Regions from separate parts of the Homo sapiens genome. Here region 1 is linked to region 2. Evidence: fine-mapped expression QTL. Tissue or cell type: whole blood. Region 2 holds a variant in brackets; the other region holds the start of a gene. All regions are shown on one strand. Distances are from middle to middle.

Region 1 (8,083 bases), 44 kb after region 2:
GAATGGGGGCTGGGAGGTAGGCTGGGTGTAAAACATGTGCTCCTTCCTCCCCTGTGCCTCAGCCTGCACTTTTTGGCCTCCATCCCCAGGAGCTGGGGAAGCGAGGGTATGCTACCAACACCAGCATCATCATTTCAGTTCAGGTGACCCCAGATCAGGGTTTGCCCCAAGGTTCTGTATAATGGCAGTATCAGATGCTTCAGGCCCTGGCACCTTCCCTTGGTTTGACTCATACAAAGGACAGGACAGCAGGAGAAGAGAATGAATTCCCAGCCTTTCTTGATTACTACACAATGCGCTATATTGCTGCTTTACAAGAAGTTGTATAATTTGGTGGGAGGTATGAGACCACCCCAGTTCTCATTCTGCCTCCATCCCTTTGGTTTATTTCTCTTGGCAGGTGTTTTGTGGTTATCAGGTATTGACACTCTGTGTGAAGGGCTTTACCAGTGCTTCTCAATTTGGAATCTTACTGTGGGGACCAAGAGTCAAGAAGCCTGGTAAATTTTGTGGGGTGGGTAGTGGAAGAGAAGAGGTGCGCCCGGGAGACTGGCAGGCTCAGCGGGGCTTCTGCATGTTGTCCGAGGGAGGGATGGCTCAAGAAAAAGCGAGAAGGAGAGATGAGAAAGCAAGCTTCCTCTAATTCCTGATCTTGCATCGGCTTGGCTTTCATGGCTGAAGCTGAATTCTGGACACCTGTTCCCATTTCTAAGGGCTAGTACGGGGGAGGTCATTTTTAAGATTCGACTCTATTTTGGATTTTGTCACATCCCCAGGATGATGTCCTTTGTGAACCCGGGAGAGTTGTGACCAGATGTAGGCTCTGGGGGAGGGCCTGCATCAGAGGCTGGGGTAGGGGGATGCATATTGGAGAACTCGTCACTTTCTGGGGGGCTGAGCCTTTATCTTCAGGCTCCATCTGAGCCAGAGCCAGTGGCAAGGGCTTGGGGAGGAGGTGGAATGTGAGACCACAGAGTACCACCGGGCATCACTGCATCCACCGACAAGGGCTGCCTCCTCCTCTCAAGAGATGATGCCAGCTGGTGCCTGCTCCATCCCCTACCAGATCAAGCCAGGTTGGGATTTGTAAAAAGGGGGTAGTAGCTGAGAAATGTAAATGAAAATGCAATAGCAGAATGTCCTTTAAGGAGCAGAGCTGTGTAACTGCATGATCACTTATTTATTCTTGAAGACAGGCACGACAGGGTCAGGCAGGCAGCCAAGCCTCAGACCCTGCTGCTGCCAGGGAACTGGGGCCACGCCACGTCCCCCTCCTCATCCCGAGCCTCACCTCGTTACTGAGACCAATGAGAGAAGGTGGCATGTCATCCTCAACTCCTGCCCCTAGCAACATGCTCCTTGCTAGCTGCATGAAGATTTGGACAAGTCATTAAATTCTTGAGTCTCAGTTCCCTCATCTGGAAAATGGGTATATTAACCACCATCTTATGGAACTTTCAAGAAAGACAAATGAGAAAATGGATGAAAATCACTTTGAAAACTCAAATTCACTTCCAAATGTGAGGAAGTGGAAGTGGTGATGTTGCAAAGGCTCCCTGGCCACCTGCAGGGGCCTGATGTGGGAAGAGGGAGAAGGTTTTCCAGGACCCCTCCTTTACTAGCTCTACAGCCTTTGCTGGAAGACATCACCAGGGCCCGTGCCATCCCTGAGGTGTCCCTCCCCTGCCACTTCTATGCCTCCAGCCCAGGGAGTAACTGCACTACCCCACACTTTTCTCATCATGGCAGGGTCATGAGACTGCCATGGGTCGAGGACTAGCACCAGCCTTCCCGGCGTTGTCCCTATGAAGGTCCCTCTCCAGAAGGATGAGTTGTGGACAGCGCCTCTGGGCTTAGCTCCAGTACCCAGAGAATCAGGCCCGGAGGGCCCAGTATCATGAGCGTTTAATTCTCCTGAGCTCACAGGTGGGTTCCATGGCTGGGGGTGGGGGCAGGAAGGGGCATCCCCAGTTGCTATTTTATACACCTGCGGGAGTGGTTTAGCACCACAATTTGAGATGACAGTAGAAGTCTTTCATATAAAGCATATTAACAGTATACTAATAATAACATTAATAACAATAGTAATTATTATAACTATACAGTAACAGGAATAACAGTGGTTCATTAAGTGCTTACTATGTGCCAGGTACCTGGTTCTATGCACTTCACATGCATTTACTCATGAATCCTCATCCTCTATGTCAGTCATAGGTACTATAATTATCCAAGAAGCTGAGGCACAGAAAGGATAAATAAAATGCCCAAGGCTTCACGAAGCCAGGATGAAGCTCTTAACCTACGAGTGATTTCAACAGGGATGATTCTGGCCCCTAGGGGCATTTGGTTGTCTCAATCATAAGGGTGCAAAACTCTTGCTGGCATTTCGAGACTGCAATGCACAGGACAGATTTCCAAAACAAAGAATTGTCCCATATCCTGTACTACTTTCGAATGTACAACTGAACTAAACCCACTACCAGTAAAAGTTGGTCATACTTCAATTGACAGTAATACCAAAAGGTTTTGTAAGCTTTTAAAAATAAATTTCATGAACACTCAGAAAGTTAGGAGATGGTTATTATGGAGCAGAAGCTTAAAAGGAATAAAGACATTGTCTTAAAATTATTGAATAATCTACTCCATGCATTGTCTACACAAAGGATTATAAGATTTCAGCTACTATGTATTTGATTGAAAACAGTTCTGATCAGTAGGTGATACTGAATAAACGAAGAAATTGACTGAAAATATTTAACAGAGGATATGTGAGAGAAGCAAACATGGAATCAGAGACACTTGAGATGCAGAAGATCTCACTGAGTTTCCTTAATAAAAGTTTTTAGGGTTTATTTCATATTATTGCCATCCTTTATATGTTTAGTTTTTTTGGAGCCCAAGGATGCTATGTTGTCATAATTATGTGTGGAAATGTTGTGTCCTGTCTTTACAACACTGTCCCGGGTGTCCACATGCAATTGCTCTAAACCACTTTTATCTTCTTTTCTTTTCCCAATCCATCCTCTATCCCCCATTGCCCATTGGAAATATGTGATCTCTAAGGCCTTTTAAGATCCCAGAGACTGAATTTTACCTCAACGCTGATATGTTTCAAGACAGAGGTTGATGTGTCTGTGGTACTCTATGGCGACCCCATTCCATGGGAGCTATTTTGACAATACACACATACCTAAGACTGAGTTCCTTTGCATGCACATCATACTTCTATATTATCTCCACCTTGTGCTCTCTAATTTGCCTTGCTATGTTATCCCTATTTCAATTAAGATGCTTTCCCTCTCATCATATGCAAGTACGTCTGGTCTGTTATTCCTTATCTAACAGTTTTTATTCTATGTTCACTTCCTGCTACTCTTTCATTTTCTTGCATGTGTGTGATTTTTGTTTTTGCATAGAATGGCTCATCTTCTATTTCTCTTAAATTCAAACATATATTATGTGTGGGTGCAAGCAATCTGCCTATTTCATTTATGTCTTCTGGTAAGTCTTGCCTGAACATTTATATATTGAAAGACATCATGTTTTATTATAATTTATCTTTTTGTTTCTTTTTAAAAAATTATGTTAGCTTTCCTTGGTTTTGTTGTTGTTGTTTGGTTTGTTTTTTTTTGAGACAGGATCTCGCTCTGCTACCCAGGCTGGAGTGCATGGCTTGATCACAGCTCATCGCAGCCTCGACCTTCTGGGCTCAAGCAATCCTCCTACCTTAGCCTCCCCAGTAGCTGGGACTACAGGCAGGTACCACCACATCCGGCTAATTTTTTATTTTTATTATTGTAGAGACAAGGTCTCACTATGTTGCTCAGGCTGGTCTCAAACTCCTGGGCTCAAGCAATCCTCCTGCCTTGGCCTCCCAAAATGCTGGGATTACAGACATAATGCATTTTGTATGCCAGGCCTATTTGCATTTTTAAATGATGTATATAGGTAGTCTTTGAAATTCATTTCTTCATTTCTGGACACAGAAGACATTGCAAAGTGGATGTTGGCTCTCCTGGCATCAATGCCACGTCAGAACCACTGCTCTGCGATGGGAAAAAAGGATGTTAGGAACTAACTGCCTCTCTTTTTGCAGGCCCAAAGGACGAATCCATGTCTACACAGCTGGTGGGTAGACTAGAACCAGGCCTCCTAAATTGTGCAGTCCTGCCCCAACCCCAAATTCAGGGCTTTGTCTTCCATAGCTCAACATCACAGTCAGTCCAAAGCTTGGACGCCGCTTGGGGAAAGGAGGTCGAAGACCTTCACGTCTAACTTCCCCCATGGCGCTTTTGCCATTGATTTAACCCGATCTGGCTCTGCCATTAGGTCAACAACAGGCTTTGTGCTCAGTCGCTCATCGCCTCCCAGCGCCTAGCATGTGCAATAGCAGAGAGCAAAAAGCTTGACTTTCAAGATGAATTTAGTACATTCCCAAAGGGATGCGCAGATGCCAACTCTTCCCACACTATCAAACCAAGCAAGAAACTTGAGCACCCCCTAGATTCCAATGCTTCCACATACAATCTAAGTTTCGCGGAGCAGACGAGAGCCGCAGAACACCGCGAGGTGCGAGGAAAGGGTCAGGTGGGCGGTGCCTTCCCCGGGCAGGCGCGGCAGGTGGAGGGGCGGGGCATTGCCCTACCGGAAAACGGGAGGAGGGAGCTGGCGAGTAGAAGCACCTGCGTGGTGTGCGGGGGTGGAGCGGGGGCTGGAGGGAGAGTTAATGATTTGCCACAGGCTCATTTCGCAACTTAACCAAGGGTCAGCTTCCCGTGACCATGTACCAGCTGCGTCCTCTGGGCCACGCTCCACTTGCCCGCTTCCACCCGGAAAGCCCCCCAGGCTGAGTGCGGCATGATCTCCATCACCGAATGGCAGAGTAAGTGGGATGAGCGGGGCTGCAATGGGCTATCCAGGCCAGGCTCCCTGCCGGCTGGCTCTCTCTCCCAGCTGGGCTCTCTGTCACTACAAGCGTGACCTCTGGAGCCAGGGGCTGGGAGATGCTGTGCTGGCACCCTGGGGCAGCAGGCAGGGTGGGGTGTGGCTCCCTACCCTCCAGCGGGTGGGAGTTGCTCAGGGCCCACAGGTAGCTAGAGGCTGGTGCCCAGGGGGCCTGGCAGGTTCCCCATTCACACTGACCCCTTTCCCATCCCGGGTTCTTAGAACTGGGTTGCCACAAAGGTGGACTCAGGAGGCCTCTGCCCATTCAGACATCTTTCCCCACACCATCAAGGTCTCCTGTGGCCCTGGGGGCTTCTTATAAAAAACTAAACTCCACTCCCCTGACCAAACCACCATACCCTCACTCCTAAACATCCTTCCCCTTCTTTTGGGGGAAGAGGTAGGGAGGAGGTCTTGGAACAAGTCTGGGGCCATGGGAAGAACCGTGGCTCTGTGGGCTTCATTTGGGTGAGTTACTTAAAGCCTCTGAGCCTTGGTTTTTCATCTGAGAATTGGTGACAACATTCTTTTGTTCACTCAACAGATTTGTCTCTGCTGTGTGCCAAGCACTGTGTTGGATATAGAGTGTCCAACATTAAATGAAACTGACTCCCTGCTTACATTCTAGAGAGGGGAGACAGGTAATTAACAGAAAGAAGTATATAGTATATCAGAAGATGATAAGTCCTCCAGATGAAAATAAAACAAGAGGAGGCTATGGAGTTCGAGGTAGGAGGGGTCGCTATTTTATATAGAGTGGTCAGGGAAGCCTCACTGAGAAGGTGAGCCTTTATTCAGATCTTTTTTCAGAGATCTATAGGAAGTGAGGAAGCAAAGCCACGCAGCTCTCTGGAGGGGAAATGTTCAGGAAGCAGGGACAGGCAGTGCAAAGGCCCTGAGGCATTAGCATACTTGGTGTGTTTGAAGAACAACAAGGAGGTGGGTATACCTGGAGCAAAGTGAGGTGAGGGGAGAATCATAGGAGTTTAGGTCAGGGATGTCACTGAGGGGTCAGGACACTGGAGACTTATAGACCATGGTAATGACCTTGGTTTTGTGCTATGGTGTGATATGTTCTATTTCTATGTTTAAAAGATCATTCTGGGTGCTGGGTTGAGAATAGACTGTGGAGGTATGAAGGCAGCAGCAGGGAAGCCAGTTCTTTTTTTTTTTTTTTTTTTTTGAGACAGAGTCTCACTCTGTCGCTCAGGTTGGAGTACAGTGGCATGATCTCTGCTCACTGCAACCTCCACCTCCTGGGTTCAAGCGATTCTCCTGCCTCAGCCTCCTAAGTAGCTGGGGTTACGGGCACCCACCACCACACCTGGCTAATTTTTGTATTTTTAGTAGAGATGGGGTTTCTCCACGTTTACCAGGTTGGTCTCGAACTCCTGACTTCTCAAGTGATCCACCTGCCTGAGCCTCCCAAAGTGCTGGGATTACAGGCGTGAGCCACCGCGCCCAGCCAGGGAAGCCAGTCCTGAGTGTGTGAAGGTGGAGACCAAGGTGTTAGCAGGAGATTAGCGGGGCGTGGTCCATGCTGGATCTGCCTTGAGGAAAGCGTTGAGGATTTGCTGACGGTTTGGACATAGGGTGTGAGAGAAAGAGGAGTCAAGAATGCCTTGTATATTTTTTAGCCTGTGCAATGGGAAGGGTTGAGTGGGGGGAAGCAGGAATTGGGCTTTAGATGTGTTGAGTCTGTTTGTGCTGTTAGACATCCGGGTGAGATGTCAGGTAGGTGGTTGGGTATGTGAGTCTGGAGTTCCAGGTAGAGGCCTGGGCTGGAGACAGAAATGTGGGAATAATCTGCATATACATGGTTTTTAGGACTATGAGCATCCATGAGATCACCGAGGGCAGGCACAGTTTCTCACCTCCCCACTATTGACATTTTGGGGCAGGATAATTCTTTGTTGTGGGGGCCTGTCCTGTACATTATAGGATATCAGCAGCATCCCTGGCCTCTATCCACTACATGCCAGTAGCACCCCCACTCCAAGTTGTGACAATAAAAAATGTCTTCAAACATTGCCAGATGTCCCCTGGGAAACAAATTTCCATCCCGCACCCCGCTTCCCCACCCACAATCCCCTCAGCCCAGTTGAGAATCATGGACCTGGCGAATAAAAATATAGAGAGAGGTGGGTTGGGTCCTCAACCCAGTGGCACGCTGACACTTTGTTAAACCAATTAGCCTGCAAGTAATATACTCTTACCAAATATGATAAGCAAGTCCTGTGAGAGAGAGAAATGAGGGATTTAGGTCAGGGAAGAGAGTGGACCAGCTTTCCCTGAGCAACTGACATTTCAGCTGAGACCTGAATGATGAGGATGCATTGTCAAGTAACAAGTGAGAGGCAGGGTGTTGCAGACCAGGAAACTGCATGTACGAAGGCCCTGAGTCAAGAGGGCTCACATGGAAGCCATGGAGAACAGTGTGGTTGGAGCATGGCAGGCAATAGGGACAGTGGCAGGAGATGAGGTGGGCAGGCAGGCCTGGGCCCCACCAGGCAGGGCCTGTGAGCTGTGGTGTGGATGAGAAGGCTCTGCTGCAGTCTAATCTCAGTGGGCAGCCGTGAAGGAGTCTAGGCAGTATGCTAACATGATCAGGTTGTATGTTTTGCAAGACCTTTGAGCGCCGTGTGGAGAAGGACTGGGAGGGTGCAGGAATAAAGCAGGAGGCCAAATGGGGGCTGCTGCATACGTCCAGGAAAGAGATGATCGTGGCCGGGAATTAGGTGTTAAGAATGGAGAGAAATGGACAGCTTTCAACATGTATCTTGGAAGAAGAAAAGAAAACTTAGCTGTGGATTTCATGGGGGAGGGGTGGGCTTCTGCGTTAAGTGGTGGGGTGGGCGGTGGTGACATGTTTACTCATTTGAGGACAACCAAGGGAGGCACAAGTTGAAGGAGGGAAGATAAATAGACCAGTTTGGGATTGAAGATTAGCCCAGTTCAAGATGGCTGAGAGAAAACCAGGCAGATATGCCAAGTAAGCAGCTAGATATGAGTTTCAAAGCCCAAAGAGAGGCATGGACTAGAAAGAGAGACATCAGTGTCATCAGCATACAAGGGAGGTTTGAAGACGTGAGAGGCTGGGTGTGGTGGCTCATGCCTGTAATCTCAGCACTTTGGGAGG
Region 2 (8,101 bases):
CTCCGCTCTACAATAACCCTGTGTTCTCCACCTAGAAGGCTTGCTTGGGCCCCTGGTCTCTCTATCCCCTATCCGTCGCAAGTCTCAGCTTCTTAGTCTTCACTGGCTTTTTGTCAACACCTCCCCTGCCCTCTCCCACACCTACATGCTAAGCCCTCTGCTGGAGGGTGGGGACCAGAGGAAGGAGGCCCACCCCTGCCTCTTGCTGGGTAATGGCTCCTGTCAGAAAGAAAATGAGGGCTGGGGACAGGTGGAGGCGAGGTGGGACCAGCTGCAGCTGAGGAATCTTTTGAGCATTTAGAGGGTGTGGGCTTGACGTTGCTGTTCAGGGGAGCCCTGAAGCTATCTCAACCCCCAGAGACCCAGGATTTAGGGCTCAAGGGGTCAGAGGCTGGAGTGAGGCTCACATCCGAGACTCTGAATCACTGCTAGATGTCCCCTGTTGAGTGGGCTAAGCTAGGCTACTGAGGATCTCACTGGGAAGTGTGCTGAGGTCCCAGAAAGCATTTAGTCCTGTGGCCTCTTTTCCTTGTGGCCTAAGAACTTTGAATTTCACCAGGCAGACTCTTTTCCCGTGAAATAGATGCATCAGTGAAGACCAGAGCAAAACCACAACTTGTCTGCAGTTGCAGAGCTGGTCAGGAGCAGAGCCAGGCTTAGCACTGCGATTCCCTGACTCACTCTCCACCACCAGCCTGAATTTCCCTGGTGCAAGCTCTCCACTCCCCACCCCTTGGTAGGCAGAACTGGGCATTGTTGGGTGCTGCCATTCCCGGGGGAATGCTGAGTAGAAGAGGACAATCTGAATATTCCCCCTTCCCTGTGCTCCTCACCGTTTCCTGCCACGTCGTCTTCTGTCTCTCCCTTTGGTGTTTGGTTGACCTGTTCTCTGCTTCTCCTCCTTCTGACCGCGTGAGGACCCCTCCTCTGGACAGGAGCTCTCTTCTGGGTTCCCGCCCGCAGTACCTGCTCGCAGCCACCAACTAGGTAGTGTGCCCCATCTGTATGCCAGTGCCTGCTTTGCATGCCTGCAGAGAGGGGCTTGGCTGTCTCTCCACGTGGAAGAGACAGTGCTAGCTTCTCAGCAGTGAAGCTGGGGCTAAGATTGGCATGTGCTCAGGGGGTCCTCTCTCCCAGACATGGGGTCATTGCCTTTGAAATCAAACATGGAATTTGCCGGGAGAATGGGTGTGATCATTGTCCCTCCTGCTTTAATTACCCCAGGTGGGGCAAGTAGGCTGACCTGGTTATTGGGCTGCCTAATGGTGCCCAGAGAGCCAGCCAAGGTGGATACGTGGGTACCAGCTGGAACCCTCGGGGTAGCTGCAAGCTGCCCTCTTCACCTTGCTCCTGAGCTCCGCATGGGGAAGAGCCCCAGGTGCAGGGAATGGCCCAACTGACTGCCCATTCTGTGGGCGTTGGTGTCTTCTCCCAACAGGTGACTGTGTGCTGGGTGGATGAGGCCGAGGCCAGCTCCACACGCTGCCTCTCCCCACAGGCTGAGCATGCCGGGGTCCGCACCTACTTCTTCAGTGCCGAGAGCCCCGAGGAGCAAGAGGCCTGGATCCAGGCCATGGGGGAGGCTGCTCGAGTACAGATCCCTCCAGCCCAGAAGTCAGTGCCCCAAGCTGTGCGGCACAGGTGAGTGCCAGGGAATTGAGTGTGGGGGTGCAGGAAGAATAAAGAGGGGAATGGAAGACACACCCAGCTCTGGGCCATTGCTAATCCCAGTGTGCCTACTTGAAGCCCTGGAGAATGTGTGAGCCGTCTCCTTGCATCCAGGCGGGAGGCCTGGCTGAGTGATTTCAGAGCCTGAAGTCTCTCTTCCCCTAGCCAGCTCCTCCTCTTCTCTCTGAGCTCGGGAAGGCCAAGAGAAAAGCCAGGTTCCATTGGGGTCTGGCCAGGAGCCAGAGGTCAGGGTCATTTGCTGGTTTTTCTCGGCTGTGTGTGTTAAGCACACCGCCTTTGGAGGAAAATAAACTCAGGTTTGAATCACACCTTGTCCACTTGGCTGTAGCGTGATCTCAGTGCAAGGGACTCACCCTCTCTGAACCCGAGGTTCCTCTGCTCAAAAACCAGCAAATACAACTCTACCTCATAGGGTTGTTGTGAGGCCTACACAGAGTGCGTGTAAAACACTCAACATGCAGTAAACTCTTAACATATGGCCGCTCCCATCGCCCGCCGTCACCCACGGTCTCAGCGTCTGTCTCTCCCTTAACTGGATGTGGAGTCTTGAGTTAGGTGCTAAGGGGGATCCAGGAAAAGGGGGTTTCACAGTGTAGGCTCCAAGTCCACATATCTTAGAAATGTTTACCAAGCAATGTTTCAACAATCCCACTTGAATATGTGGAGTTTGGGAAGCTGTAGGGGGAAAATTGTCACAAATTTCCATCTTCGCTTCAACCAAGGGGCATAATTCCAAGAGTTCATTCATTCATTTCACAAATACTTACTGTAAATATAAATGTGCAAGGCACTGTAGTGGGTGCTAGGAACACAGGGGAAGAAAGTCTGCCATGTTCCTACCCTTGTGGGGCCTGTATTCTCATGGAAAGTCAGTCCTGGAAGAAATGTGTTTTGGAGAAGGGAACTAGCGTGTTTATGTGCTTGTGAGTTTGAAAGCAGAAACTTCTGCTCCTGGTGCCCGCCATGTTTTATCTCACAGCAGTCCTAGGAGGGGAGCTATTATTATGCCCATTCTGCTGATGAGGAGCCCAAGACTCTTGGCAGTTAAATAACTTTCTATAAGAAAGACAGCTGCCCCGTGACAAGCCTTTGTCACTGGAGTATCAAGGACAGTTACTGATGTGAGTGCAAACCCAGTTTGGGGAGCTGGGTCAGGGATAGATCGCAGAGAGGACCAAGACTAGGTGAGGTTAGTCATGCCATAGCTTGAAGGCTGGGCTCAAAGCAGACTGACAGAGGGGAGTGGGGTGGAGAATGACCTGCAGAGAAGACGTGGGGGGCAGAGTTAACACAGCAGGTGTGGGCAGGGGCGGATTAGGTTGTATAATAATTTCCCAGGCTGGAGCGAGAAGGTGAAGGGGTGGGACTTAGGAAGCAGAACTGGAGTTCATAGAATCCTGGTTCCAGCCACCTCCCTGCCCATCCTTCCCCACTCCTCTTCTTCCCAGTCTGGCACCCCCTGCCCCACTCCATGCTGGGCTAGAGTCACTGACAGCATCTCCCTTGGCATCCTGCAGCCATGAGAAGCCAGACTCGGAGAACGTCCCACCCAGCAAGCACCACCAGCAGCCACCCCACAACAGCCTCCCTAAGCCTGAGCCAGAGGCCAAGACTCGAGGGGAGGGTGATGGCCGAGGCTGTGAGAAGGCAGAGAGAAGGCCTGAGAGGCCAGAAGTCAAGAAAGAGCCTCCGGTGAAAGCCAATGGCCTCCCAGCTGGACCGGAGCCAGCCTCAGAGCCGGGCAGCCCTTACCCCGAGGGCCCAAGAGTGCCAGGGGGTGGGGAACAGCCTGCCCAGCCCAATGGCTGGCAGTACCACTCCCCAAGCCGGCCAGGGAGCACAGCTTTCCCGTCTCAGGATGGAGAGACTGGGGGACACCGGCGGAGTTTCCCACCACGCACCAACCCTGACAAAATTGCCCAGCGCAAGAGCTCCATGAACCAGCTTCAGCAGTGGGTGAATCTGCGCCGGGGGGTACCCCCGCCTGAAGACCTTCGGAGGTGAGGCATGCCGGCGGCTGGGGTGGGGCTGATATGGTATTATGGCTAGAGCGTGCGAGTGGGGTCATAGCCCACGAGGCATCCCCTGTTGGAAACCTTCTGGAAGCAGGCTGAGTTGGGAAACCAAGCAAATCCCATGCTTCCTGGCTTGCCCAAATCCTGCCTGCCCCATGGCTCCACCATTAGAGTCTGGCTGCTGTCCCTGATTCTTGGTTTCTTTGTCTGCTTCCTTCAGAAGAAGGGACAGAGTGCCCCAGTGCCTCTCCACGGCGTGCTGGGGAGCCCAGAACACAGCAGGCTTTGGGAGGGGGCCTGAAGTTGTTATAGTCATACATCCATCCAAGCTATGGGCCCTCCTACAACATCCTCTCCCCAGTGCTCCACCCACTTGAGACTCACTAACTGCCAGACCAACTCATTCCATTTTTGAACAACTCTAATTGTTTTAAAGCCATGATTTATATGAAGTTAAAAAACAAAACAAAGTAGCTCATTGGTCCCAACATGGCCATCTATGACCATTTACGCCTTTATCCAATGACTGACTTTGAAATATCTGGGGACATTTATTGGGCCCAATGGTGTCCCTCAGGGCAAATGGGCTGCAGGCTCCTTCCCTGGGGATTTGGGCAGCTCCAGGGACTGCAGGCCACAGCTTCAGGAAGGCCATGGGGCCCGGGAGGAACCTGCCCTCTAGTGGCCTGAGCGGCTGCGCATTGCTGGTGGTCTGGTGCCTGGGAGCATCAGGCCTGCTCTGGGGAGAACCACTTGGGATGAGTCCCAAGAATCTACTGGTTCTGTCCCTGACAAGATCATACAGTCAGGAAGCTGGGCATGGT[G/A]GCTCACACCTGTGGTCCCAGCTACTACTCTACAGGTGGATGTGGGAGGATTGCTTGAGCCCAGGAGTTCAAGGCTGCAGTGAGCCTTGATGGCCCCACTGTATTCCAGGCTGGTGACAGAATGGACCTCATCTCTAAAATAATATAAAATAGATCAGGAAGCCGCCCTTTCTTTCATCCCTCCTACATTGCCCTCCTTCAGGTGCCTGGTAGACTTTCTTCTATTTGCCTCTCTCAGAAAAGATCTGATAAACTGGTTCATGCTGAGATGGAGATGGCTGATAAGGCTTCACGTTTCTTCCTAGGGATATGTCATTTTAAAGAGGCAAAGATTGAAGCTCTGAATGGTGCAGTGTCCAGCCTTGGGGAGTTGTTTGAGGAGGGGGGCTGTGAGGACAGGAGTCTTTCCCTCATCTCTGGAATAAACCTCAGCCCCTGTGTACCTATTCAAGCACCCTGCTCTAGGCTGGGGGACCTGGAGGTGGGGCTGGGGTGGGTGGAGGGGTGCCCGTGTTGTCTGCCTTCATTACAATGTCCCCTCTCTCTCAGTCCCTCTAGGTTCTATCCTGTGTCTCGCAGGGTCCCTGAGTACTATGGCCCCTACTCCTCCCAGTACCCCGATGATTATCAGTACTACCCGCCAGGAGTGCGGCCGGAGAGCATCTGTTCCATGCCGGCCTATGATCGGATCAGCCCGCCCTGGGCCCTGGAGGACAAGCGCCATGCCTTCCGCAATGGGGGTGGCCCTGCCTACCAGCTGCGAGAGTGGAAGGAGCCCGCCAGCTACGGGCGGCAGGATGCCACCGTCTGGATCCCAAGCCCCTCCCGGCAGCCAGTCTATTATGATGAGCTGGATGCCGCCTCTAGCTCCCTGCGCCGCCTGTCCCTGCAGCCCCGCTCCCACTCTGTGCCCCGCTCACCCAGCCAGGGCTCCTACAGCCGTGCCCGCATTTACTCCCCTGTCCGCTCACCCAGTGCCCGTTTTGAGCGGCTGCCACCTCGCAGTGAGGACATCTATGCTGACCCTGCTGCCTATGTGATGAGGCGATCCATCAGCTCCCCCAAGGTGAGCCACCAGCCTGCCCTTCCTTCCTCATCCCCTGAGGTCCCCAGAAGCCTAAGACCATCTACTGAGAAAAGGCAGAGATGTGGGAGCATCTGTGCCACGGGGCCACTGGGCCGTTTGTCTGCAGGACCAGCAGTGCTGCCCAGCGGAGCCCCTGGCCTGTGGTTCTGTCTGTAGGAGAGCTGTCTTGGGGATGGCTTTGCCTCTTGAGTGGGGACATTGCTTTCTGTACATGCCCCCAAGTTGTGCCAGATACCATGCCGTCATATAAGAGGGCAGAGAGGGTTCTGTCTTTTCAAATCTTGAGGACCTGGACAGATCATTGCAAGGGGGGCTGCTGTCCATTTCAGTTTGGGATCTGCTCTGGGAACTGAACACAAATACCTCTAACCTTGAGCTTCAGCTGTTGGGGAACTCCGTGTCCCAGCCAGACCCCTCACCTCTGCGATCCCTTTCTCTTCCAGTATGATTACCTGGGAGACAGGCGGCCAGTCCCTGCAGGACTGTTCCCCTACAACTACCCACCATCCCCCACGGTCCACGATAAGATGGTACGTCCTTTCTCCCCTCCACCTGTCTCAGGGCCTCCCCGCACCGTGCTCCACTCAGGGTGGAGCTAAACTGGGGCGGACTCCAGGGACGCTCTGTGCCTAGTGCCTGGCCTGGCTGGTTTTTAGCAGCCTCTGGATACCTCCTCCCTCCCAGCCAGGACTCTAGCCCCAGTATCAAGTTTGGTGCCAATAACCCCTTCTCCTCTGTGACACAGCCCGTGGAGGAGGGATGAGATCTGGGAGCATGTAATATCCTGGTCCCTCTCCTCTCCAGCATGCAGGAGAAGGGGCCTAGGCAGGAAAAATCAGGCCAGAGCTCCTAACAAGAAGCAAGATCTTCTAAACTTTTTTCCCCTGAAGCATAGTTATTTCATGTTTGTCCTTTGCCTGGAATGCCACTTTTGGGGAGAGATACAAGCGATATGATTGAGGAAGAAAAAATTTTCCGAATTGCATCTCCTCCTTTTTCTCTGCCTCTTTCTACTCGTGTCTCTCCCTGGAATTTGTTCTCCTGAGAACTTTTGCCACCACCTAGAGACCTAGATAAGATGCTCCACTTGGGAGGGTTGGGGAGGACCACTGGGACCAACAGGCAGAATCCTTTTCCAGAAAGCCTGTTGCTGACTCATTTCCATAACAGTACCAGGAGGCCAGAGTGGAGGAGGGCTGGGCAGGCTGGAGGCTAGGCGGCTGCTCCTTCCCCTCTCTGTCTGATTCTCACTCTGCCAGTGTCCACAGCATATAAGCTTTGCCCACAGCAAACACACGCACCCAGAAACAACCGATTTTTCCAGAAAACTCAGAAACAGCTGCTAACAAGTGCTGCCTAAATTGCTCTGATGACACTCACCTCTCCCAGGGAGGCCTAGGCAGACCTAGGAGAGATGGCACTGGGGTCTGCGTGTGCCCCTCCTCTCCTGGAGTGTCCAGTAGAGAACTACTTTGCCTGCCCACATCCTCAACCCCTCCCTTCCTGAGAACTCCTCAAGGGCAGAGGGAGAAGCCTCTCCTTGTCCTTGTCGCTAACTCTTAACTGCTTTGCTTCTTTTTTTATTGTTTTCTTTTGTGTGTTCCTGTTTGTTTGTGTTGCTGTTTGGCCTCTGGGCCTCGGGCTCCGGGTAGGATGAACTTTTAGATCTTCAGTTGCAAAGAAACCTAGAGTATTTGGATCAGCAGGTAGGCAGAGCTGGTGCCCCCCTTATCATCCCACTGCCTTCCTGTCGCATCTCTCCACTCCTCCCCACCTCCTCATCTTCCAGCCATTTGACAACCTTTGTTGGTGCAAGCAGGACACAACAAAGTGGCTTATGTTTTGGTTTGCGCCTACACACCCCTTCTCTTCAAAGCCCTTTAGGACAGCTGGGAGTTTCCTGGGGAAAGAAGCATAATAAGTAGGCACATGAATAATTAATGCCACCTCTTATTTCTCCAGTGCTCAGCTCAGATGGAACTGCCCCCAGGGGGCAGGTGGGAATTTGCATTTTTTCTGGCGAGAGGAGGGAGTCGCAGAGTCGAGGGAGCTCTAGGCTGGGCCTAAAATGCTAGGGATTTAGTTCAGCCTGAATCTGGGAAATCATCTTATCATATTTTACAGGTTGTTGTTAAACTCCATAATTGGTAAACTGAGGCCTGCAGACCCTCCCTAGGATGATTTTTAAAGTAATATTCACTCAGTGTATTCATTAGTTCCTCCAAAAGCCCTTTTGCATAAACAGCTCGTGCATTCCTGAGAATTCAGTGCAAACAGAGGGAGTATTATCAACCCAGTTTTACAGGTGAGCAAGCTGAAGAGGCAGTGAATGTTCCATGAGCTGCAAGCAGTGGCTGCCTGGTCTCTGCTCCGGGGTTCTAACCCTTTCTTGTCTTTTAAGCTAAGGGAGCTGTGAGACTGAGTTTAGACAGGCTGGGGGTCAATATGCTGGGTATTTATATAAGCACATACTCTTAAGTTTAGAT

Evidence for each region. PIP is the estimated chance that this variant, and not a neighbour inherited with it, causes the effect.
Region 1: GOLT1A starts here. The variant in region 2 is fine-mapped to the expression of GOLT1A in whole blood (TOPMed, PIP above 0.99).

The regions. Positions count from the first base shown.
Region 1 is chr1:204,210,681-204,218,763 of GRCh38, reverse strand. It overlaps GOLT1A (golgi transport 1A), which reads left to right and starts at 4,776. Exons shown (of 5, transcript NM_198447.2): 1 at 4,776-4,882. The coding sequence starts at 4,858. RefSeq lists an enhancer at 4,249-4,905.
Region 2 is chr1:204,254,846-204,262,946 of GRCh38, reverse strand. PLEKHA6 (pleckstrin homology domain containing A6) reads left to right here. Exons shown (of 23, transcript NM_014935.5): 7 at 1,499-1,641; 8 at 3,207-3,689; 9 at 5,078-5,594. Among named protein-coding and RNA genes, the nearest start is that of GOLT1A, 45 kb to the right of the region's middle. The variant G/A (reference allele first, on the strand shown) is at 4,529.